Homo sapiens: one gene and its partners. The protein of the gene in region 1 interacts with the protein of each later gene in a pairwise test. Each region holds a gene or a part of one and is shown on either strand. Other genes may lie near its edges.

Region 1 (7,150 bases):
ACCAGACTGCAAGCTGAAAAAGGACAGGAATCACAATTATCATGTTTATCATTCATTTCCTCTTTCAACAAATATTCCTGAGCATGAACAAGACAGAAATAGTCCTGGTTCACTGTGGCAGATATGCCCTTCTTACAATGTGACCTCAACATACCTCCCATTGGGGGTGAGGGTGGGGGTCCTAATATTCCATTCCCTTGAATCTGCCCCTACAGGGTACTGTGGAAGTGATGCTATGTGCCTTGTAAGGCTAGGTGACAAAAATGCCATGCATTTCCACCTTGTTCTCTTATGGCACGCACTCTTGGAATCCAGCCTCCCATAAAGCTACTGTGAGGAAACCCATAGGAGCCCATGCGGAAAGATCACATGGAGAGGTAACCAGCTTAGCCAAGGCCCCAGTCATCATAGAACAGGGACAAGCCTTTCCCAGTGTGCCTTGTTTGAATTCCTTACTCACACAATTGTGAGCATAATAAAATGATTTCTTCATGCCCACTAAATTTTGGAGTGATTTATTACACAACAATGGTAACTGGAACAACCACACAAAGCTTAATATCTAACAAGGAATAAAAATACAAAATACCTGATTCCAAGGTATTACCTACACCTAACACAGTAACTTGAACAGAGCAAATTATTTGTTGAGTGTCTGAGGTAGTTATGATGCCCATTTTGCAGATGAGGAACGGAGGCTTTGAGAGTTAAGAAACTTGCCCAAGGCTACTCAGCTAGTGAGTGGCAGAACAAATTAAAACTCAGATCTAGGCCTGGCGCAGTGGCTCCCGCCTATAATCCCAATACTTTGGGAGGCCAAGGAGGGAGGATTACCTGAGGTCAGGAGTTTGAGATCAGCCTGGCCAACATGGTGAAACTCCATCTCTACTAAAAATACAAAAAAATACAAAAAAAAAAAAAATTAGCTGGGCATAGTGGCACATGCCTGTAGTCCCAGCTACTTGGGAGGCTGAGGCAGGAGAATCATTTGAACCCGGGAGGCAGAAGTTGCAGTAAGCCGAGATTGCACCACTCCACTCCAGCCTGGCAGAGTGAGACTCCGTCTCAAAAACAAAAGCAAACAAACAAACAGAAAAAACAGCAAAGAAAAAACTCAGATCTAAACCCACGTACCCAACACTCTACTCTTCTGTTACTCTCAGTACTTACAACTTTAAATATACAGTAGCTGGCTGGGCGCAGTGGCTCATGCCTGTAATCCCAGCACTTTGGGAGGCCGAGGCGGGCAGATCATGAGGTCAGGAGTTTGAGACCAGCCTTGCCAACATAGTGAAACCCCGTCTCTACTAAAAATACAAAAAATTAGCCAGACGTGGTGGCAGGCACCTGTAATCCCAGCTACTCGGGAGGCTAAGGCAGGAGAATCGCTTGAACCCAGGAGGCGGAGGTTGCAGTGAGCCAAGATCATGCCACTGGACTCCAGCCCGAGCAACAGTGTGAGACTCTGTCTAAAAAACAAAACAAAACAACAACAAAAAAAAACGGTAGTCTGTTTTAAAATGGGATTGTCAGTATTTAAAACATTCTGGCCTAACAGGATTTGTCATGCAGTTTCATCACTGAGATGGAAACCCACATATCACCTTCTCCAAAAAGCTTCTCCTGACCTTCATAATTCAAGTGATGCCAGCTCCACCAACCTCCCCAGCCTTTCTACTTCCTATTCCATCACAGTCTTATTGTTTTCCCAGCACTTGTTCCTAGTTGAAACTGTCTTATTAATTTGTTCATGAGTCTACTCTGTCTCTCTGACATGAATATAAGCTCCACCAGAGTAGGAACCTTGTCTGTCCTGTTTACAGCTATATCCCTAGTGCCTAGGACAGTGCCTGAAATATAGGAGGTGATCAAAAATTATTTACGGAATGAAGGAATGATTGCATTCAGGCAAAATGAATGCCCACCCAATCTTATTACTCACCAATAGATGTGAAAATAGAGAGGATAAGAGAAAACAAAAACAGAAGGATTGCAGCAGAATCATTCCATACAGTAAGGTCAGTGAAAAAAAAAAAAGGAAGAGGGGTTGGGATCCATGCTACAATTCATCTACTTAGAAAAGCATAAACTCTGAGTTCACAGACTGTCAGTCCAACTTTCAACTAAGTAAGGGCTGATGAGGAGAGAGGTGTTAAAACTTAGAATGGAGATGTAGGTAATGGATGGAGTAGGGGGCCACACCTCCTAACCTCCATTCATAACCACTGATCGCTCACTTACAAAAAAACTTCGCTGAACCACAGCAAGGACAATTGTTGGGGACCCTTAAACAGCAGACCTTCTACCATTCGCTTGGCTCTTCTTATGCACTAGATACAGCTACCTGGGATGCAGGTGCTGTTTCCCAAAGGCAAGCAAGTGGCAGTAACCTAGCTCTTCGCGGAAGAAGTAACGAGAGAAATCTTCAGACCCAGAACAGGGTCCTCTGCATATGCAGGTCCCCAACGGCTCTATTTCTCCCAGGTGGGAAGGTGACCGTTCCTCAGGACCTCCCAAGTGCTAGGCACTATGCTGGGCTCTTAACATGCTTTCCTTAATTTACGGGCCATTCCTTCCCCCCAATCCAATAATTTAGAGAGGCCTCAAGTACAACTTCTCCATTCCCCAGACCCGCTACTCTCTACCCCAAGAAATCTTCAAACTCCAGGAGCGGTTGGGGAAGATAAAAAGAAATCTGGAGTGGCCTAAGAGTTAGAATGGGAGGGGAACGGTGCTAGGGCAAGAAGAGATTATACTGGGATCAGTATAGTAAAGATCAGTAAAGAGAAGATAAGAACGCGGTCTGACCCTTTCCAAGCCCATTATGTCCATCAGAAGAGATGACGAGGAGCAGGAAACTGAAGCCCAGCAAACAGGTGGCCCCGAGACGAGGCCGCGTCTCCATGGCAGTAGGTGCGCGGGGCCACGGGGCTGAGCGGACGCAGGGCCGGAGTCCCAGCAGACGGTCCACACAGTTCGCCGAGCGCCGCTCAGCACAACACCTCTACTTCCCAGATTTTTTTTTTTCAAACTCTGAAGGAAGTGATGTTAGACGGATGTGGGTGGTGCCTCCGGGGTCCGGTTTGGGATGGAGTGAGCTTAAAGGTGCAGATCACGTAGAAGGGTACGAGAGCTGTTCTCGAGCGCGAGTTGCTTTTCGTGGATTCTGGGTGTCCAGGTCCCGGGACGGAGCGGGAAAATGTAGGCCAAGATAGTAGGGGCGGGGGAGAGGTTCGGGAGAACCGTTGCTCCTCGCGTCCGCCACCCAGTCCAGCCCCTCCCCCCAAGAACCGCTGCACTTCCTAGTCAAAAGCAAATTATTGATTCGTGAGGTCAGTCGCTCCCAACAGTGGGCGGATTGCCCACTGGCCTCGGATTCTCCTTACCCCTCCACAAATCAAGACTGGACAACTGGATTTCATTGTTAGGTTCCTGCGAGGGTCTCTGAGGAGACCTGGCAAGCCTGTTCTGCGGTGCGTGGGCTCGTGCCGTGCAGACATGCACTTTCCCGCTGGAGAAGCTCTGTACCTTATTTTTCCTTGCAACCGCAAATCTTCTACTCAGGGATGATGCAACCAACTGATGCAAGCTCCAAGAAAACCAAACTTGGGACCTCTTATTGCAAAACTGACTTAGGTGGACTTAGGACACCAGGATATAAGTCACTGCAGGCTAAAGTGTAAAGCTTCTGGTTATTTTTCTTGTAGCTTGAGGATTTCTTCCCAATTTTTCCCCTTCGCTGTATAACAAACAGGTGAAAATGTCCGGTCTTTTTCTTCCTGGTACTAGTTGAGTCCTAAAGTCCGTACTTAATGCATAGCGAAAAAGCGACCTAACAAAAGTACACACCCAAATAAAAACATACCGACCACCCTTTTATTAGGTTCCCTAAAATTGTAGGCAGGGACACAACAGAACGCTCGGGAGACTGCAAGCCCCAGGATGCCGCGCGGCCACCTGCACCTGCCGCCACTAGCACTAAGAGGGATGCGCAAAGCAGGCGGGGCGTTGGAGTTCAGATGTTCGCTCCCGGGATAGGCTGCCCCGGAGAGGGAGAGGCGGGGTCGGCTGTATCACGTGGATCTGCTCCCGCCGCCGCCGCCGCCGCCGTCGTCTTTCTCTGTCTCGGCTGAGGCAGCCATCTTTCTCTTGCCGCGTGCTGGTGTTGGAGGACCCTCCCTGCTTCAGGTGAGACCCCCGGCGGTCCCGCCACTTCACGGCCATAGGCCGCTGCGCACGGTCTCCCCCCGCCCTCCCCTTCCGACACCCGCCAACCGCTCAGGCTGCCACTTCCGCCGTGGTGCGGCGAGCGGGGGCGGAGGCGGCTGGCTTGGCCTGTCGGTTACCGGCGGCGCAGCTGGGGGTCGGCACCTGTGGGAAGGTCCCCAGCACCACCGCCCCCTGTGGGAGCGAGCGGGCCCGCCCTGTTGCCGCCCAGACCCTGTCCCAGGAGGCAGGTGGACGCCCCTCCTCTGTTCCATTACTCCTTGCTCACAACAGCAGTGTTGTGTGCTTTGAGCTTTATACAGGCTCTCTGTTGTCATCTCATTTGATGCTCCCAGTCTACAGATAGGGAAGCTGAGGTTACCACTTCCCGCCCTTGAGTCCAGGGAACCGAACTCAGTTACAGCACTCTTCACCTTGTAATGGCAGTGTTTGTTTACAAGTCGGCGTCCCTTGCCCATCTTTATAACCCCCCTCCCACTGCCTGCTGACCGACAGGCTCAGTGTTGCACAGCTAGTGAATGGCGGTTTCAACTTCCGTTCCCACATTCTTGCAGTTTACCATAGTTGTCCCCTCGGGAGTGGTAACAATAGTTACCAGTAACTGTGTATCTTCTGTGAACCATTCCCTGTGGTTGATAATGTTTTAACCCTCAAAACAACCCTGTGAAGTACGTGGTGTTATACCTTTCCAAATGCAGGAGGAATACAAGTTCAGAGAAGAAAAATACCTTTCCCAACTGGTAGAACCTTGGTCTTTCTGATTCCAAAGCCTGTGCTTGTCTTAGAGAAACCCTACATAATAAAAAGTCAGGACTCAAGGTTGCAATTATTTTTATCTCTGTGTAAACATGATGTATGTGAAAGTGCCTACCACAATGCTTCTAACTTAGGCACTTAATAAATATAAACCTGTTTACACCCTTTCTTGAGTCCTTGAGAACAGTGCTAAAAGATCCTGGAATCCCCAAGGAAGAACTCATTAATCATGTGGCTTTAGGAAGTTACTTCTCCCTTTTGGGCCTAGGAAGGGACTTCTCCCTTCTGGGCCCTTATTTCCTAATCTATTAAGATGGGAGGGAGGGAACTGTTTCGTTTGTAATTTATACTTTGCTGGTGCTAGCAGATGTTGAGATGACATCACAGATAGGAATGATGGGTGCAATAAAGTAGAGGTTGATTGAGAATAGAGAATTAAACCAGGTGATCTTGGAGGTCTACTCCAGATTCTGAGCTTGACATCGCATAGACTGAGTCCAGTCCTCTTTCCTACTTGAATTCCACACACCACAACTTGCCAAGAAACAAAAGACTACTCTTGTTCCTCCCCTACTGCCTTGAGCTCTCAGTCTCCCTAAAATCATTTTTCTCTGAGATACTCCTTAGGAACAAAATTTCTCAATTCTGTTGTCCTGACCACCTGGAATGGAATCTGTTCTTTCATCTATACCTTGATTTGAAGAGTTAATTTTGTTCTTGCTTTTATTTCAAACAAGTCAAGACTTTGTCTTGGCATCCCAACCTCTGTCTGTTCTCTTGGGAATTGTTACTTCAAAATGCAGAAGAATCCCAAAGGGTTTACCAAGTATCTAGGTCTAATGTTTTTCCTTAGCCCCTTTTTTTTTGCAATAAATTCCTTTGGCTCTTTGTTAGTTCACTACACTCTCATGGCCACATTCCTTTGAGAAAAGTGAATGTTGGTCCTTTTCTGTGGATATTTGAGCATAGGAATTGGGATTTAAGTCATCAAATTTAAGTCTATGGCAGAGCTAAGATTGGCACACATTTAAGACTTCTTGTTTTGGACTCTAAACACACTTCCTCCTATAAAAGTGTTTTTAGCTGCTTCAGCATTGTGATACAGCGCTGAGCAGAGTGAAGAATCATAAATTCTAAATATTATTTGGGATCTGGACATTAGCCTTAAAGAAGAGATAGATATATAGGTTATTGCCTAAGGATAGTGTCAAAGTACAAAATGGTTAGTAATTATATAGTCTTTGATGCTGCTTTTTTTAATCTCTCAAATGAAGCAAACAGTATTTTTTTCATGTGAATGATGACTATACAGGGTTTAGAGAATTGGCCAAAGAAGATTTGATAACAACCTAGTCCCTTATTCCCTCCCTCACATCTCAGTAATGATTTGTTGATCTGCAGAACAAGTAAAACAAGACTTTTAATTTGGCTTTTTTTTTTTTTTGAGACGGAGTTTCGCTCTTGTTGCTCAGGCTGGAGTGCAATGGCATGATCTTGGCTCACCGCAACCTCCGCCTCCCGGGTTCAGGCGATTCTCCTGCCTCAGCCTTCTGAGTAGCTGGGATTACAGGCATGTGCCACCACGCCCGGCTAATTTTGTATTTTTAGTAAAGACAGGTTTCTCCATGTTGGTCAGGCTGGCCTCGAACTCCCGACCTCAGGTGATCCATCCGCCTCGGCCTCCCAAAGTGCTGGGATTACAGGCGTGAGCCACCGTGCCGGGCCTGAATTTGGCTTTTCTTTGTTTATGTAATGTGGAATGTGATGACCCATTATAAACTTAAGAATGTTTTTTTCTTAGTGGGATTATCACTGACCAGACTAGATTCATGACTATAATTTTAGAATCTTCAAAATCAAGATTAACTTTAAAAAGCTTGTTTTAGGAGTCTCCTCTCTGCCCCCCCCCAACATTTATTACTGTAGCAAAGATATGTTTTTGTTAAATTGTGCAATGAAGCATTTTACCCTGTATGCAAGAATGTCTTGACAAGTATAACATACTATATCAGTGCAGGGTATTGAATGAACTCTGGAGAGTGCTGCAGAAGCACCAAATGTCTGAAAACCTGGTTCTCTTTCCCCATTATTAACATACCATCTGACCTTGAATAGAGGACATGACTACTTGATATCTTGACAGCTAGACAGCCTTTTGTTGAATTTC
Region 2 (7,498 bases), on another chromosome or scaffold:
TTGAGATATAATTTACATGCCACAAAGCTTACGCTTTAAAAATATAAGCCCGGGCGCGGTGGCTCATGCTTATAATCCCAGCACTTTGGGAGGCCGACGCAGGCGGATCGCAAGATCAGGAGACCAAGACCATCCTGGCCAACACAGTGAAACCTGTCTCTACTAGAAATACAAAAATTAGCCGGGCGTGGTGGTAGGCTTCTGTAGTCCCAGCTACTCAGAAGGCTGAGGCAGGAGAATTGCTTGAACCAGGGAGTCAGAGGTTGCAGTGAGCCGAGATCACGCCACTGCACTCCAGCCTGGGCGACAGAGCGAGACTCCATCTCAAAAAAGAAAAAAAAGAAATGGGATCACATGCTGTGCGTCCTTTTGTGTCTGGCCTCTCTCCCTGAGTGTGATGTCTTCACGGTGCATCTGCGCTGGGGCCTGGGTCAGAGCCTCACCCATCCACATTCCACCGTGTAGATGGGCCATGCTGTGCTGACCATTTAGCGTGGACAGGCATTTAAGCTGTTTTTGCTTCTTTTTATTGTTTTATTTTTTATTTTTTATTTTTTTTTGAGACGGAGTTTCACTCTTATCGCCCAGGCTGGAGTGCAGTGGCGCGATCTGGACTCACTGCAACCTCCGCCTCCCAGGTTCAAGCAACTCTCCTGCCTCAGCCTCCTGAGTAGTTGGGATTACAGGTGCCCACCACTGCACCTGGCTAATTTTTTTGCATTTTTAGTAGAGACGGGGTTTCACCATGTTGGCCCAGGCTAGGCTTGAACTCCTGACCTCAGGCAATCTGCCCGCCTCGGCCTCCCAAAGAGCTGGGACTGCAGGTGTGAGCCACCGCGCCCGGCCTCTTCTTGCTTTTTGACTCTTGTGAATACAGCTGCTGTGAACATGTGTCTGGGTTTTGGTGGACATGTGTCTCTCTTGGGCACATATCTAGTATCAGGGTGGAACCGGCGGGTCTCATGGAAGCTGTGCAACTTTTGGGGGCCACCAGCCAGTCTTCCACAGGGGCCGCTCCCGACAACCCCACCAGCCGTGCTGTGCCTGAAGGTCAAGTTTCTCTGCACCTCGCCAGTCCCCTCGCCAGTCCCCCTTCCGTCCCCGTCCCCACAAGCCAGCGTGCTGGTCATCAGGGCAATTCCCTCAGCTCCCTGGGCCCCAGGGACCAGCTGGCCTCTGCGAGGGTCCCACAGCCCCGGAGTCCAGGTAGGGCGAGGTGTCTGTGGGGATGGAGGTCCTCCCTTACCTTCGGTTTTGAGGCGCTCTGCCTCTGCTGAGTCCTCCTCGGAAGGCGGGGTTCGCGCGGGGCTCCTCAGGTCCTGCGGCATCTCCTGGACCCGGAGGCAAAGGCGGCCCGCTGTCCTCTCCTCCCAACCTGGCACCCTCCGGCCTTAGCTTCCCTCGGGACGCCAGAGAGGGCCACCAAGTTCCGAAGGACCCGGGGGCTCTGCAGGGGACTCCTGGCCCCCCATCATGTGGCCCTGGGCGAGTGACCACAGCGCTATGTGTCTCAGGACCCGCCGATAGGGGGAGGAGGGCCAAGTGCTCCTGCAGCCACGTCCCCAGCCCAGGAGAGGATGCAGGCAGAGTGCTGGGGGACGATGAGAGCGGGGCTCCTGGGGTCCCCAGGGCTGCCTGCTGTTGCTGTTCTTATTTTGGGGGCAGTGGCTGGGGAAGCATCGAGGCTCACCTTGCCCGTGGCAGCCGCTTCAAATATCTCCGGCAGAGTCTGAGGGAGCGCAAGGTCACTGTCTTCTACCGTCACCCCAAACGCAGTCTCCAGGCACTGGATGGCGACTGAAGCGGGGACAGAGGCGGTCCCATTCATTGCACGCAGCCCCGAGGTTACGTTTTTGGGTCTAGAGGGCGGGGTTGGTGCTCATGCTTCCCCAGGTGTGTTCATTCCCAAGGACCCCAGAACGCAGGGGCCGCCGCCTGTGCTCTGGGCTGGGACAGTGGACCCTCTTCCTTCCCGAAAAGAAAAGCCAGACAGAGACGCCCCGTGCCCCTGAGAGCAGCAGAGGCCGTGGGCAGAGTGGAGCCCAGGTGGTGACCTCAGGCCTCTGTGGGGTCCCAATGCTGGGGCTGCCCGGCTGCGGCGTGGTGGGGGCTTGGCCCCACCTGGAGGGCCACGTCAGGGGTGAGGTGCCCCGGATGCTGTTGCACCTCCAAGGGCGCCTGGCCTGAGTAAGGAGCTTGAAGCCAGCCCCCAGTAGAAGGCCTGTATGACTGGGTCTGTACCAGGGCAGGACCATTGAGAGCAGGACAAGAAACAGCCACAGGGCCCCTCTCTCTGCTGGCCCACCTGACAGACTCAGCACCCAGGGGGCCCTCCCACCGAGCCAGACAACACTAGCCCTGGCCGCCTCCTCGTGTGGACCCAGGGTCCTAACCCAGGTCAGAAGTGGGGGTCAGCCACTTCCTGCCCAGCACTGTGTCAAGGACCCCGGGCACATCCCTACAGCTGTCACTGGGTGTCCATGCTACAGAGGCCTGGCAGGCCCAGGACACAGGTGAGCGAGGCATAGGTGGGGAAGGAGGACCTAGAGCAGAACCTGCAGCCACACGAGGGTGCCTCCCCGAGCCCTCCTTTCCCTCCGAGCCCCGGATCCAGGTGTCGCAGAAGCGCAAGCAAGACCAGCCAGGAGACCAAGGCACCTGGGGAGCGGACAGGCCATGCAGGATGCCAACGAGTCTGGGACTCTGGGGCGGGGCCAGCACTAGGAGAGCTTTTTCCCCGTGACCGATGGTGACACACACACACTGGGTGGTGAGAACATTCCAGAACACACCTTGGTGGAAGATGGGGAGATGGAAAAAAGCCACTGGAAGGCAGCTCAGCCTGAAGGCATCAAGCAGTGGTGGCGCCACGCAGTGGCAGGCGGGAGGGCTCAGCTCGGCCCTGGCTCCCACGGCCGGGGGCTGTGTGGCCCTGGGCAGACCCCTGCCCTCTCTGGGCTTAGCTTCCACCCCCAAAAAGCCAGGCGGGGGACCAGGCATCTACACACCAGGTGTCTACACGAGGCGACTGTGCTGGCCGCTGCCCGGGGAGAGGGGGAAGTGGCAGGCACCCACCTACCTTCCAAGCTCTCCTGAGCATCGGACGAGAGGCCCCCGTGCCGGAGCTGGTCATGCAGGAACTGGATGATGGCGTAGGCCAGGCGCTTCTTGTTGTCCATCTTGAGCCCAGAAGAGGTGATACCTGGGGGTGCAGGAAAAACCCCCATCAGGCCCCCTCACACTCCCCACTCCAGGCACCCCAGGCCTGCCCCTAACTAGCTGGGCCTCACTTTAAGGGTGCTGGCTGATCTCAGCTCCAGGACAGCCCAGGTAGAAAGGCCTTAATACGCCCATTTCACAGATGATGACCTGAGGCCCAGAGCTCACCAATCCGGCTATGCACACAGCCAGAAAGTGTGAGGCCAGCAGGCAAGCAGGGCCTGCCCTAGAGAACCCGCGTGCTCCCAGGGCCTCCTGAGCACTCCCAGGGTGGTACTGAGGCGCCACGGAGGTCCCCTCCGCCCCTGCTTCTGGCATGAGGTGGGTGGGGGCCAGGGATGCTGCCCAGCACCCTGCAGTGCCCAGGACAGCTCCACTCCAGAGAACGATCCAGCCCCAATGTCCACAGTGCTGAGAGGGAGAGACCTTGTCCTCAGCCAGAGCCACTGCCCCTTTCCTCAATTTACCTCTTTTGTGGCATGTCAGCAAGCATTTCTTAGGTACCCAACGGGGCCAGGTGTGCCTGCCCTGGTATCACTGTTTCACAGGACTTGCAGAGGACTCCCCCCAGGGACTTCTTGGGGACCCGTCTTGTTCCCCCTGGGAGGCCTACCTACCTCATTCCACCTCAGACCCCCCTCTAGTTCCCCCTCGGACACCCTCCTGTGCCCCCCTCGGACACCCGCCTGGTTCCCCCACCTGACACCCTCCTGGTTCCCCCAGCGGACACCCTCCTGGTTCCCCCAGCGGACACCAGCCTGGTTCCCCCACCGGACACCCTCCTGGTTCCCCCAGCGGACACCAGCCTGGTTCCCCCACCGGACACCCGCCTGGTTCCCCCCTCGGACACCCGCCTAGTTCCCCCCTCGGACACCCGCCTGGTTCCCCCCTCGGACACCCGCCTGTGCCCCCCTCGGACACCCGCCTGTGCCCCCCTCGGACACCCGCCTGGTTCCCCCCCGGATACCCTCCTGGATGCCCCCTCGGACACCCTCCTGGTTCCCTCTCAGAAACCCTCCTGGTTCCCCCTCGGACATCCGCCTGGTCCCCCCTCGGATACCCTGTCTTGTTCCTCATTCCCAGGACTTGACAGCTGCTTCTGCTCATGTCTGTGGTCCCTGCAGTTTCCTGCCAAAGCTCTAAAGGGTGCCAGATGGTGACATCAGGAGAGGCTGTTCTGGAATCTGGAGCTGTAGTCTATGGACAGGTCTTTTTTTAGTACAAGACCTTTCACACAGGTTTCCTGGGTGCCTGGGCCAACTTGGAGGGGCCTCGGCCACAGTGACCTTCACGGCTCTGAGCAGGAAGCCCCGACGTGAGCTTCCCCCGGGGCAGGCTGGCCGGCTGCCTTGAGGCGCCAGCTCAGGAAGGCTTGGCCTCACTGTGCCTCCATTTCCCCCGAAGGCTGGCGATGGTGACTCTAAACATTCAGATGTAACAAGCTGCGTGGAGAAGCAGCCGCCCCCGCCCCCGCCGCTGGAGCAGCCAAGTTCTGGGCTAGTCACGTCCACCTGGGACCTGAGCACGGGACCTTGTCTGTGTCTTTGCAGATGGAAACAAGTGGAGATGAGGTCGCTGTGGTGGCCCTAATGCAGGGATTGAACATGGCCGCACGGAGACGGCCGCGTGAAGACGGAGGCAGAGGCTGAGGCCATGTGGCCACACGAAGAGAGGTGAGGCTCGCTGGCCCCCAGCAGCTGGAAGAGGCAGGACGGAGCCTCCCTTGGGGCCTTCAGAGGGAACGTGGCCCAGCCTGCACCTTCATCTCAGACTTCTGGCCTCCAGAACTGCGAGGGAAATCAATCTTGGTTGTTTTAAGCCAGCCGGGTTGTGAGGGAGAGGCCAGGCGGTTCCCGGATCGTGGCCTGCAAAGCCTGTGAGCTCGGACGGGTTGTTCGGCCTGAGCCTCCGCCTCCATGTCTGTAAAATGGGGAGCTCCATTGTGGCTGCTGTCAGGGGTCGGGGAAAAAATAACCCGGAAGCTGTCAGCCCAGCGCTTGGCGCCCTGCGATATCTGTTGTTAATATCACGATTCTGCCAGGCGTGGTGGCTCACGCCTGTAATCCCAGCACTTTGGGAGGCCGAGGCAGGCAGATCACGAGGTCAGGAGACAGAGACCATCCTGGCCAAACACGGTGAAACCCCATCTCTACTAAAAATACAAAAATTAGCTGGCATGGTGGCACGTGCCTGTAATCCCAGCTACTCGGGAGGCTGAGGCAGGAGAATCACTTGAACCAGGGAGTTGGAGGTTGCAGTGAGCTGAGATCACACCACTGCACTCCAGCCTGGCAACAGAGTGAGACTCCATGTCAAAAAAAAAAAATCATGATTCCTCGTGGTGAGTCTCGTGGCATAGACCTCGGTTGGCTGTTTTTGGCAGTGTGACCTAGGGGAAGCGACTTAACTCTGCTGAGCCTCAGTTTCCTCTTCTGTCCCCCATGGATGGCGACAGCACCTCCCCATCGGGGGGGGGGGGAGGGGTACGAGACCAGGCGTGCACAACGCTGAGTGAACACCCCCACACAGGCAGGTACGTGGACGGGTGCTGGTGCACCCTCCGTGTCCAGATCAACACATGCTGAGGCTATTCCAGAAACGCTGCCCGGCTGTGCAGTTTCACTGGGAGCATTTGGAGAACCTGCTCTGAGGCCAGAAGCAGGCATGGAGAGGGGTTGCTGTGGTGCTGGCGCATGGAGGGGCAGCCCTTGGGGAGGCCCTGGCCGTGGGATGGGACCCCCATCCTCTGTTCTTGCGATGAGGTTCCCTTGGCTGGGCCTCCCTTCTCCACCTGCTCCTTCCGGGCTGGGCTGGGCAGCCGCCTTCCCTGGAATCCACTCCCTGTCCAGGGCCTCTGGTGTCTCTGAGCAGCTGGGTCTTCCCCATCTCTGTCCCTCACTGGCTGACATACAGGGTGGCGGGGCTGTGTGTCACCGGCCTTCCTCCGGGGCCGGGCCCAGCCCGTGCATAGTGGACCTTATTCTTAGTTGCACTCTGTGTGCCAAGACGCATGAGGCAAGGGGCAGGCCTGAGGCCTCAGGAGCTGGGGAACCACCGTGAGGAGAAGCACAGGTTTGAGATCAGACGCTCGGATTCAGGCTGGGTCAGACAGGGCCTGGCCAAGAGGCCGCCAGCCTCGGGATGGACGAGGAAGGGCGAGGCCTGAAGGAATCTTCTACAGTGACAGCTGCCTCTGGATAATTTCTTATTCTTCTCTGCTCTGTGCCCAGATCTGCTCTCCAAGAAGTGACTAAAGCCACAAACACCTACAAGGAAACTCTGACCCAGCACCCAGGAGGCCACGGCTCCTCCTTCTGAGCCAGCACAGTGCAAGGGGTCTCTGCCGCCAGGTCCCACTCCCCAGCTGGGCCCCAGGGACCCTCTGCGCGCAGCCACGCTGACAGGCGGCTCCAGGGGCTGAATACTGTCGTGTGCTGAACTGTGTCCCCCAAATCCATACACTGAAGTCCTAACTGCCAGGACCTTGGAATGCGACCTCACCTGGAAATAAGATCTTGGCGGACAGAATTTGGTAAGATGACATCATACCAGTGTACGGCGGGTCCCTAGAGCAATAACCAATGTCCTTATAAAAAGGGGACATTTGGATGCAGACGCATGCACAGGGAGAACACTGTGTGGATGTGAAGGCAGAAATGGGTGACGCGGCCACACGGCAGGGACACCGAGGGCAGAGATGGGTGACGCGGCCACAGGGCAGGGACACCGAGGGCAGAGGTGGGTGACGCGGCCACAGGGCAGGGACACCGAGGGCAGAAATGGGTGACGCGGCCACAGGGCAGGGACACCGAGGGCAGAGGTGGGTGACGCGGCCACACGGCAGGGACACCGAGGGCAGAGGTGGGTGACGCAGCCACACGGCAGGGACTCCGAGGGCAGAGGTGGGTGACGCGGCCACACGGCAGGGACACCGAGGGCAGAGATGGGTGACGCGGCCACACGGCAGGGACACCGAGGGCAGAGGTGGGTGACGCGGCCACACGGCAGGGACACCGAGGGCAGAGGTGGGTGACGCGGCCACACGGCAGGGACTCCGAGGGCAGAGGTGGGTGACGCGGCCACACGGCAGGGACACCGAGGGCAGAGATGGGTGACGCGGCCACACGGCAGGGACACCGAGGGCAGAGATGGGTGACGCGGCCACAGGGCAGGGACACCGAGGGCAGAGATGGGTGACGCGGCCACACGGCGGGGACACCGAGGGCAGAGGTGGGTGACGCGGCCACACGGCAGGGACACCGAGGGCAGAGGTGGGTGA
Region 3 (7,758 bases), on another chromosome or scaffold:
GGAGGCAAGCATTTGAAGAGTAAATTGGATTCATGGAAACAATGGACTCCATCACTTAAGGATTGTCTATTGATCTGGAGCACAAGACGCACGTCACCCCATTTGACACCATAAAGCTTGTAATACATATCTTAATGTATTGACAAATCCATTTGCTAAACCGCAAAGTATCAAAAGAACATTTTGAAATGCTTCTTAATATATTATGCTGCTAAGTTTCTCCTAAGTCAAAATATTAAAAGCAAAATCCCTAATTTAAAATTAGTAAAGCAACTTAAACTAAGTCTTTAGGATAGAAAATGCGACTTTTTAGAAGGCCTTTATCTTCTTTAGTACCTAATTTTGAATGAGTGAATCTTTTCATACTTGCCATCTTTGCACTGGAAGGAATTACAAATATAGCATCTAATGGTTTTGTATTCTTCAGCGAAGTTAAGTCTTTTCTTTATAGGAGCAATTCTTAGCTCCCGGATACTTGCCATGAGATGTGTTTGTGCCTGCCATGTCATGTCATTAGTTCTATTGCAACATCTGATTTCAGCTCAATCTAAGGGATTTTTGCCACTAGCCACTGTCACGGACTTGTTCATCTGAGTGGTTCCATTTTCTTTACAAGTGATACATTCCATTTACTTACATTAGCTTTAGATTATGGTTACTAACATGCTTAAGGAATTGTTCTATCTTAACAGCATAGGAGGCAGATGGACTTTTGTAAGATCTCATTCCTCTGCCAAGGGTGTGAAGGGCTCAGCTAAAGAATGATGAAAACGTGGGTGGAGGTAATAACCTACGCAAGGGGAGGTCAACACCGTTGCATGTTCAGTCAGACCTTATGTCAAGGGAAATGAAAAAGAGAAGAGCTTGGTGGTCTTAGGTAGCCGCTCCTAATCCTTAGTGTCCTTCACTTGAGAAGATAGTGAAACTGAGAGTCAAAGGAAGAAGTGTTAAAAAGTTTCTTCCCCACTGTAATGTTGGATTTGGGCTCAGCCTGTCAAGCATTTTTGTTTACTTTCTCTTGTGAGCAGAGAGACAGGTTAAGGGTGGAGGCTGTATCTGGCTGAGGACCAGTTTTGGTGTGACATTTAACTCCAAGTAAGGCTGAATTGTATGTGGGTAATGTACTCTTTCCCAGTATACTTGTGAAGCCTACAAATGGGGGTGGTTGTGAAAAAAGAAAGGTTTGGGTTGACATTTAGCATGCTAGATGAGTCGAACCCCTTAAGCAAAGAATTATGATAGACAAAACTAACCCAGAGGAGGATGTGAGAGGGGCTATGGTTTGAAGTTATGTGCCTAGCTGTCAGACGGACACATCGTAATTTTTTAGTATTTATTTGTACACATAACACTATTTTGGGTGGGAAGATACAAAAGCAATAGAAAAAGTCCACCTCCCACCCCCCGCCTCAAAAGAGTTCCTGAAATGGCTGATGAGTCAGCCCTACTCACTGAGTTTGCATGCAGAAGGAAGTCAGGCCAAAGGTTTGGTAAAACCTAAGTCAGTATCTCCTGGCTCTAGGACTTAACCCAGTTCCTAGCAGAGTAAGGTATAACTGATGGCCACAGAAGTGTACAGAAATAATAGCAGCAACTAACATTTATTAAGTGCTTCCATTATACATTTATGTGCTATATACTTTACATCAATTATTTCACTTAATTCTTAAAACAACCTTGTAAAGTAGGAAGTTTTATTATGGCTCTGAACAGAACCATCATACAGAGAAGTTAGCTCATGCTGAAGTGTACTAAGGGTTTTTTGTTTGTTTGTTTGTTTGTTTTCTGGAACCCTTCACTAGGCTGCCAAGACACCTGCCTTGGATCTCCTTCTACTTCCCTGGTTGTTCCTTTACCATCGCCTTTGCTGAGTCCTCCTCCTCTTCTTTTTTAATGTTGGAGTGCCCCAGGGCTTACTTCTTGGTCTACTTCTTTTCTCTAGCTACATAATCTAGTTGATCTCAATACCCATCTGTATACTAACAACTTCCAAATTTATATCTACCCCAGATACATATATCTAATTGTCTACACCTATCTTCACATGGATGTTTAACAGACATCTCAAACTTACCATATCTAAATCAGAGTTTACAAATACAATCTCCACCCCGCCCTCCAATATTTGTTCTTTCTCAATATCCCCAATCCCAGTAAAGGGCAACTCAATTCTCCCCAGAGATCAGAACAAAACCCTTAGGATCATCTTTCTTTTATATGCTAATCTGTCAGCAGTTCCTGAGTACTTTACCTTCTAAACAGATTCAGAACCTGTTCACTTTTCTCAGTCACTCGGACTCTAATCCAAGCCATCCTTACCTTTCATCCCAGCTAGGCTAATCTCTTTGCTTGCTCTCTTGCCTCGCTATGCATGTTGCCCATACAGCAATCAGTCATCTTTTTTTTTAAAAAAAACTTTGTATTATGAACTTTTATTTATTTATGAATTTTGAGACGGAGTCTCGCTCTGTTGCCTGGGCTGGAGTGCAGTGGCCCGATCTCGGCTCACTGCAACCTCCGCCTCCTGGGTTCGAGTGATTCTCCTGCCTCAGCCTCCTCAGTAGCTGGGATTACAGGCACCCACCACCACACCCGGCTATTTTTAGAAGAGACGGGATTTCGCCATGTTGGACAGGCTGGTCTTGAACTCCTGACCTCAGATGATCCGCCCGCCTCGGCCTCCCAAAAAGTGCTGGGATTACAGGCGTGAGCCACCGCGCCCGGCCCATTATTATCTTTTAAAACATACACATAAACACACATAAATGATGACCACCCCTATGCACCCAACACTTAGCCTCAAAAATTAACATTTTGCAAATATTCATCTATTCACTTCTCTGTCCTTTTTTTTTTTTTTTTTGAGACGGAGTTTGTTTCGCTCTTGTTGACCGGGCTGGAGTGCAATGGCACGATCTCGGCTCATCGCAACCTCTGCCTCCCTAGTTCAAGCGATTCTCCTGCCTCAGCCTCCCGAGTAGCTGGAATTACAGGCATGCACCACCATGCCCGGCTAATTTTTTGTATTTTTAGTAGAGACGGGGTTTCTCCATGTTGGTCAGGCGGATCTCGAACTCCCGACCTCAGGTGATCGGCCCGCCTCGGCCTCCCAAAGTGCTGGGATTACAGGCGTGAGCCACGGCGCCCGACCTCTGTCCTTCTTTTTGTGGGATATTTTCAAACAAATCCCAGAAAAGTCATCCTTTTAATGATCAGATCAAGCTACTCACCACTTTCTAATTGCTTCTAATCTCAGTAAAAGCCAAGTCCTTTATCACGGCCTGCAAGGCCTGGGTGATCTGTGATTACTCCTCGCCACACCCATTCCTGCCGCCGTCCTCCTGACCTCACTCTGCTTCATTAGAGGGTCTCCCACCCTCGCGGCCCCAGCAAGCATCATCTGGAAAGCTTGTTAAAGCACACGCTGCTGGGCCCCACCCCCAGAGTTTCTGGTTCAGTAGGGCTAAAGTGGGACTGGAAAATTCGCATCTCTAACAAGTTCGCAGGTGCTACTGCTTCCAGCGGGCATACTTGGAGAACCACCAGCTGCACTGTTCTCCTTCCCGTTCCTCAACAAGGCAGGCAGGATCTTGCTTAGCAGTCTCCACGCTGCTCTTCCCTCTGCCCTAGGCATTCTTTGCATTACTCAAAGCCCCTGTTATTCCATCTCTTTAACTCATGCCTTTTGAGAGGCCTTCTCTGACCACTCTTTCTAAAATCTCTTTCCCTCTCCTCATCCTCATTTATGTTTCTTCATGGTAAGCATCACTTACTGTTTCCGTCACCCCGTCTAGATGGACAGCTCCACAAGCAGAAAGACTTGGTTTTGCTGTCACAGCCGCAGCACTAAAACCTTGCTTAGCAGGTGCTCACTTCACTTGTCCAAGGAATGGCTAGCATACTGAGGAGGGAGAGCCTGCTTCCTGCCTGGGACACTGGACAGGCAAATCACTTCTTCTTGCCTCAGTGCCACCCTTTGTAAGGACACTGGTTGGTTATGCCTACCCTTCCCATCTCCCTGGGTACAGGCACAAATGAAAAGAATAACGTGTACACGCCCGCGAAGCAGAGCAGCAAGTGGATACCGAGCATTATTACGCCGTGCGTTCGGCCGCCCTTTTTCTGCACGGAGAACCCCCTCCGCTCCCATTTTCCAGCGCCCCCGTCCCGGCGATCCAGAGACCCGCTGTGGGCGGCCGCCGCCCGCGTCCCGGCCTGCGGGCCAGCGTCTGGGCACGCCCGCCCCGCACCCGGCTGGCGCCCGCCCGCCCGCCTCCAGAAGCAGAAGCGGCAGCGGCAGCGGCAGCAGCAGCAGCAGGAGGAAGGGGAGGCGCCGAGGGAGGGGTACTCGGCCGCCGCGGGAGGCCGCATCGCAGTCCCGTCACAGCGTCGGCGCCGGCCGGGGCCGAACCCGGAAGTGGCCGAGCCCGCGCGCCCGCCGGTCCCGTCGCCGCCGCCCCGCACTCGGGCGAGCGCGGGAGCCGCGCAGTAGACGGAGCGCGCCCGGCCGAGCGGGCCATGGCCGCGGGGGCCGCCGCCGCAGGTGGTGGCGCGCGGTGAGGAGAGCGCGGCGCCCCCTCCGGGGCGGATGGAACGCGGCTCGGCGGGCGGGCAGTGCCGGCGTCCGCGGCTGGAATGGTGCTGGCTGTGTTGGTCGGTGCCTGCGTTCTGAAGCCCGAGAGGAGCCACAATGGAGACGCCGCCGCTGCCTCCCGCGTGAGTGAGCGGGCGGGCGGGCTGCGCCGCTGCGGATAAGCGCGCCGCTGCGGCGCGTGTCGCCGGCCGCGGGCGCAGCTCTGGGGACAGCCGCCGGGGCCGGCGGGAGGTGGGAGATGCGGGGCGTGACGAGGCGCTGTGCCCGCAGTCCTGAGCGGACGCGGACGGAAACTCAGCCTGGCCAGGCGGTGACTTAAAACGCTGCCCAGGATTTCTGGGGAAGGGTCTTCCCCATCTCGGGCGGATAGAAGATTCGGGGTGGGGCTGTGCATGGGTGACCCTGCAGGTCCTGTGTGTACCTCCCTGAAATGCATGGGCACCTGGTGCCGAGTTTGCCTACCCCTTTATAAGAGATCAGGCTAGGATGCACTGAGTCCGTTGAAAAAAGGAAACTGGAAAGTACCAGTCACCCGCTGTCTAAATGAATTGATCTTAGGTTGCTTGATTCCCCGAATTTCTAACAAAATTAATATCTGAGGAGCTTTTGCATCACTCTAAATGAGCGGCGGCCGTTCAGGGCATGTGACCTCTTTTACCTGGCACTGCAGAACGTTTTATCCAGAAATCAGCATCTTCTGTTTCGTTCGTACCTCGGGCAAATTAGTAGCGTATCGACCTGCCAGGCACAGGTGTCTTTTTTCTTTGGTACCCAAGTACATTCAAGATCACTGGCAACAGAATTACTTTCTAGAAATAATAGCTGAAACATTATGTAGAAGACATTATTGCATTATTCAGAACAAGGGTTTTTTTTTTAAATTTTAGTTTTTAGTTTTAAAAACATCTTGGTAAAAGTGAACTGTAAATACCCAGGAGTTTCGAAAATTTCAATTTTGGTTCCCTCTTCTCTTAGGAAGGAACAAGAGTCCTTTGAATCTGACTTTTCAAATCGCAGACAAACCTCATCCTGAAGAATGGTTTACCTTTTCATGAGAGCTTATTCATGGAGGCTTGTCGTTCTCCGGTCAAATTTGGCAAGCTTCACTCCATGCCGATTGTACCGCACCAGTCTCTTGTGGTTATTTGGCAGAATTCCAGCCAAAATAAGGATACTTGGCTTGGGTTGAATAATTTTTTGATGTTCAGCCCTTTTAGGAGAGCTAATGGGATTCTGGAACGACAGTTTCTAAAAGTGCGTTTCAGAATTTTTAGCTTGAGTGGAACAGGTCGTGGAAATCTAGGGGGTAGATAAGACTCTTGAATTGGCCTTCCTGGGCTGACAGAAGCAGGGGCTTAGTCACCTCTCGATAGCTGTGGCTTTGAGGGCTCTGAGATTTGGTCATGTTCTTCAGCAGGCTGGAGGAAGGCACCTGAACCCCTAGGAAATATGATGGTGGATGGTTCACATCAGCAGCATGAGCACACGGGGGTCTGCCCAGGCTCAGAAGCACTTAAAGCAGGATATGCTAGCTGTATTTAGCCAACATATGGTATATAATATGTAACATGTAGGTATGCTATCTGTAGTAAACCTGCCTTCTACATAAGTTCCTGCAGTTCGTTTTTACTTTTGGAACAGAGGGAGCTAAAGGAAAGAACAAGGGAATACTTAGAATGCAGGTGAAAAGAAGGGTGTGGGAAAGCAGCCTCTGGAGGGAGGGAGGGAATAGAGACACAGATGATTTAAATTGAAATAATAAAAAATAGAATTGATGTATGCATTGAAACATTGATAAACTGACTCTAGGGTAGATCAGCTAATCATAATTTTGATGACCAGCGCCATTTTTGGCATTGAGATTCCATCAATAGTGCTGGAACAATGAGAGGCTGAGATATAATGGAAAACTTGGAATGCCAGCATGGATGAAAGAATTGTTAAAACTCCTTTCAATCAGGGGTGGCTAAAGTTGGTGAGACTTTTTCATTGTTTCTGTCTATTTAATTATAAATACAAGTAGGTTTTTATTTTCATTTGGTTCTGTCCAGGATTAAACCTAATTCAAGAACTCGTTATGGTGTTATTTGCCATTCTGTGGATCAGAAATAGTTTTTTTCCTTGCCACCCCTTGGCCTGTTTGCCTCCACTCCCATTAACATCCCTCCACCATGGATCCCGTGTGCCGGATTTGAGACTTGCAGGCAGTGTCTTTAGGAAGGAACTTTACCGGGCCTCACTGCCAGAGCTGGGCTAGAACAGAGGCCAGTGGAAACTATTAGGAAGACTCAGCTTTTCATGAAGTTAGATTTTTAGCCTGAGCTTTAAGTCAAAGAAAGATGACCTGGACTTAAAGTGCCTTATGGTATGGTTGGAAGCACGGCCCCAGATTCTCTTTGTGTAAGTGTCTGTTTATTAATTCATTCAATGTGCAAATATTTGAATGCCTGTCTCTGCCTGGCACTGTGCGTGGTGCTTTTGCTTGTGTTCTCTTTTAACATCCAAATTTACATTGTTCTCAGATCCCACCTTGTTCTCCACTGGCCTGTTGGCACATTGTCTTGGAGGGAGGTCAGGCATCTGTACCCACCATTCCTGGTTCCTTCAGGATGGACTCCTTGAAATTAGCTTTTGATCTTTTGTGCTTTTTCTATTCCTTGCCTCCAACTTTCATCCTTTTTAATTCTCATATAATTAAAAATTGTCGTTGGACTATATATTTGTGCTTATTGTTTTTTGCATACTTGAGTATATGTGGCATTTAGATTCTGTTGCATTCTGGGTCTGGGTGATATTGAGACTGTGTTACATTTGCTTCTGATCAAACCTGAAAGATGTGTAACTAAAAGATGTAGCTTAGTAAAGGAATTTCAGGTAGTAAATTGAGAGATGTAGTTTAGATGTAGATTAGTAAAGGAATTTCAGATGGTAAACTGAGATGTGCAAAAGGAAATGTAAATTGACCAGCCCTGACCTCAGGAATGTATTTTACAGTCTGGCTTTTATAGTTATTTGTATAAAGGATTTTCATAATAAGTTGAAGGAAGACTGTGAGGTATAGGCCTGAGTGCATCCCTCTGATCTTCTCTTACTGATCAGTCTTCTTGGCACTTGTTTTTTTACTGGCTCCATTTTCACAAGTCGGCTTACTCTCTGTAAGCCTT

The links. The genes of interacting proteins can lie anywhere in the genome.
Region 2: the proteins of TXNDC12 (region 1) and SGTA interact in binary tests that used the Homo sapiens proteins (3 or more experiments, as listed by UniProt).
Region 3: the proteins of TXNDC12 (region 1) and KLHL2 interact in binary tests that used the Homo sapiens proteins (3 or more experiments, as listed by UniProt).

Annotation. Positions count from the first base shown.
Region 1 is NC_000001.11:52,052,192-52,059,341, forward strand, and holds the start of TXNDC12 (thioredoxin domain-containing protein 12 precursor), read right to left. Parts: upstream 3,001-7,150; 5' UTR 2,906-3,000; coding exon 2,809-2,905; intron 493-2,808; exon of another isoform or gene 216-492; intron 1-215. UniProt on the Homo sapiens protein: Protein-disulfide reductase of the endoplasmic reticulum that promotes disulfide bond formation in client proteins through its thiol-disulfide oxidase activity.
Region 2 is NC_000019.10:2,765,890-2,773,387, forward strand, and holds part of SGTA (small glutamine-rich tetratricopeptide repeat-containing protein alpha), read right to left. Parts: intron 3,203-7,498; 5' UTR 3,180-3,202; coding exon 3,080-3,179; intron 1,798-3,079; coding exon 1,691-1,797; intron 1,332-1,690; coding exon 1,247-1,331; intron 1-1,246. UniProt on the Homo sapiens protein: Co-chaperone that binds misfolded and hydrophobic patches-containing client proteins in the cytosol. Mediates their targeting to the endoplasmic reticulum but also regulates their sorting to the proteasome when targeting fails.
Region 3 is NC_000004.12:165,203,187-165,210,944, forward strand, and holds the start of KLHL2 (kelch-like protein 2), read left to right. Parts: upstream 1-4,374; 5' UTR 4,375-4,635; coding exon of another isoform or gene 4,636-4,690; coding exon 4,691-4,716; intron 4,717-6,832; exon of another isoform or gene 6,833-6,956; coding exon of another isoform or gene 6,957-6,994; intron 6,995-7,758. UniProt on the Homo sapiens protein: Substrate-specific adapter of a BCR (BTB-CUL3-RBX1) E3 ubiquitin ligase complex that mediates the ubiquitination of target proteins, such as NPTXR, WNK1, WNK3 and WNK4, leading most often to their proteasomal degradation.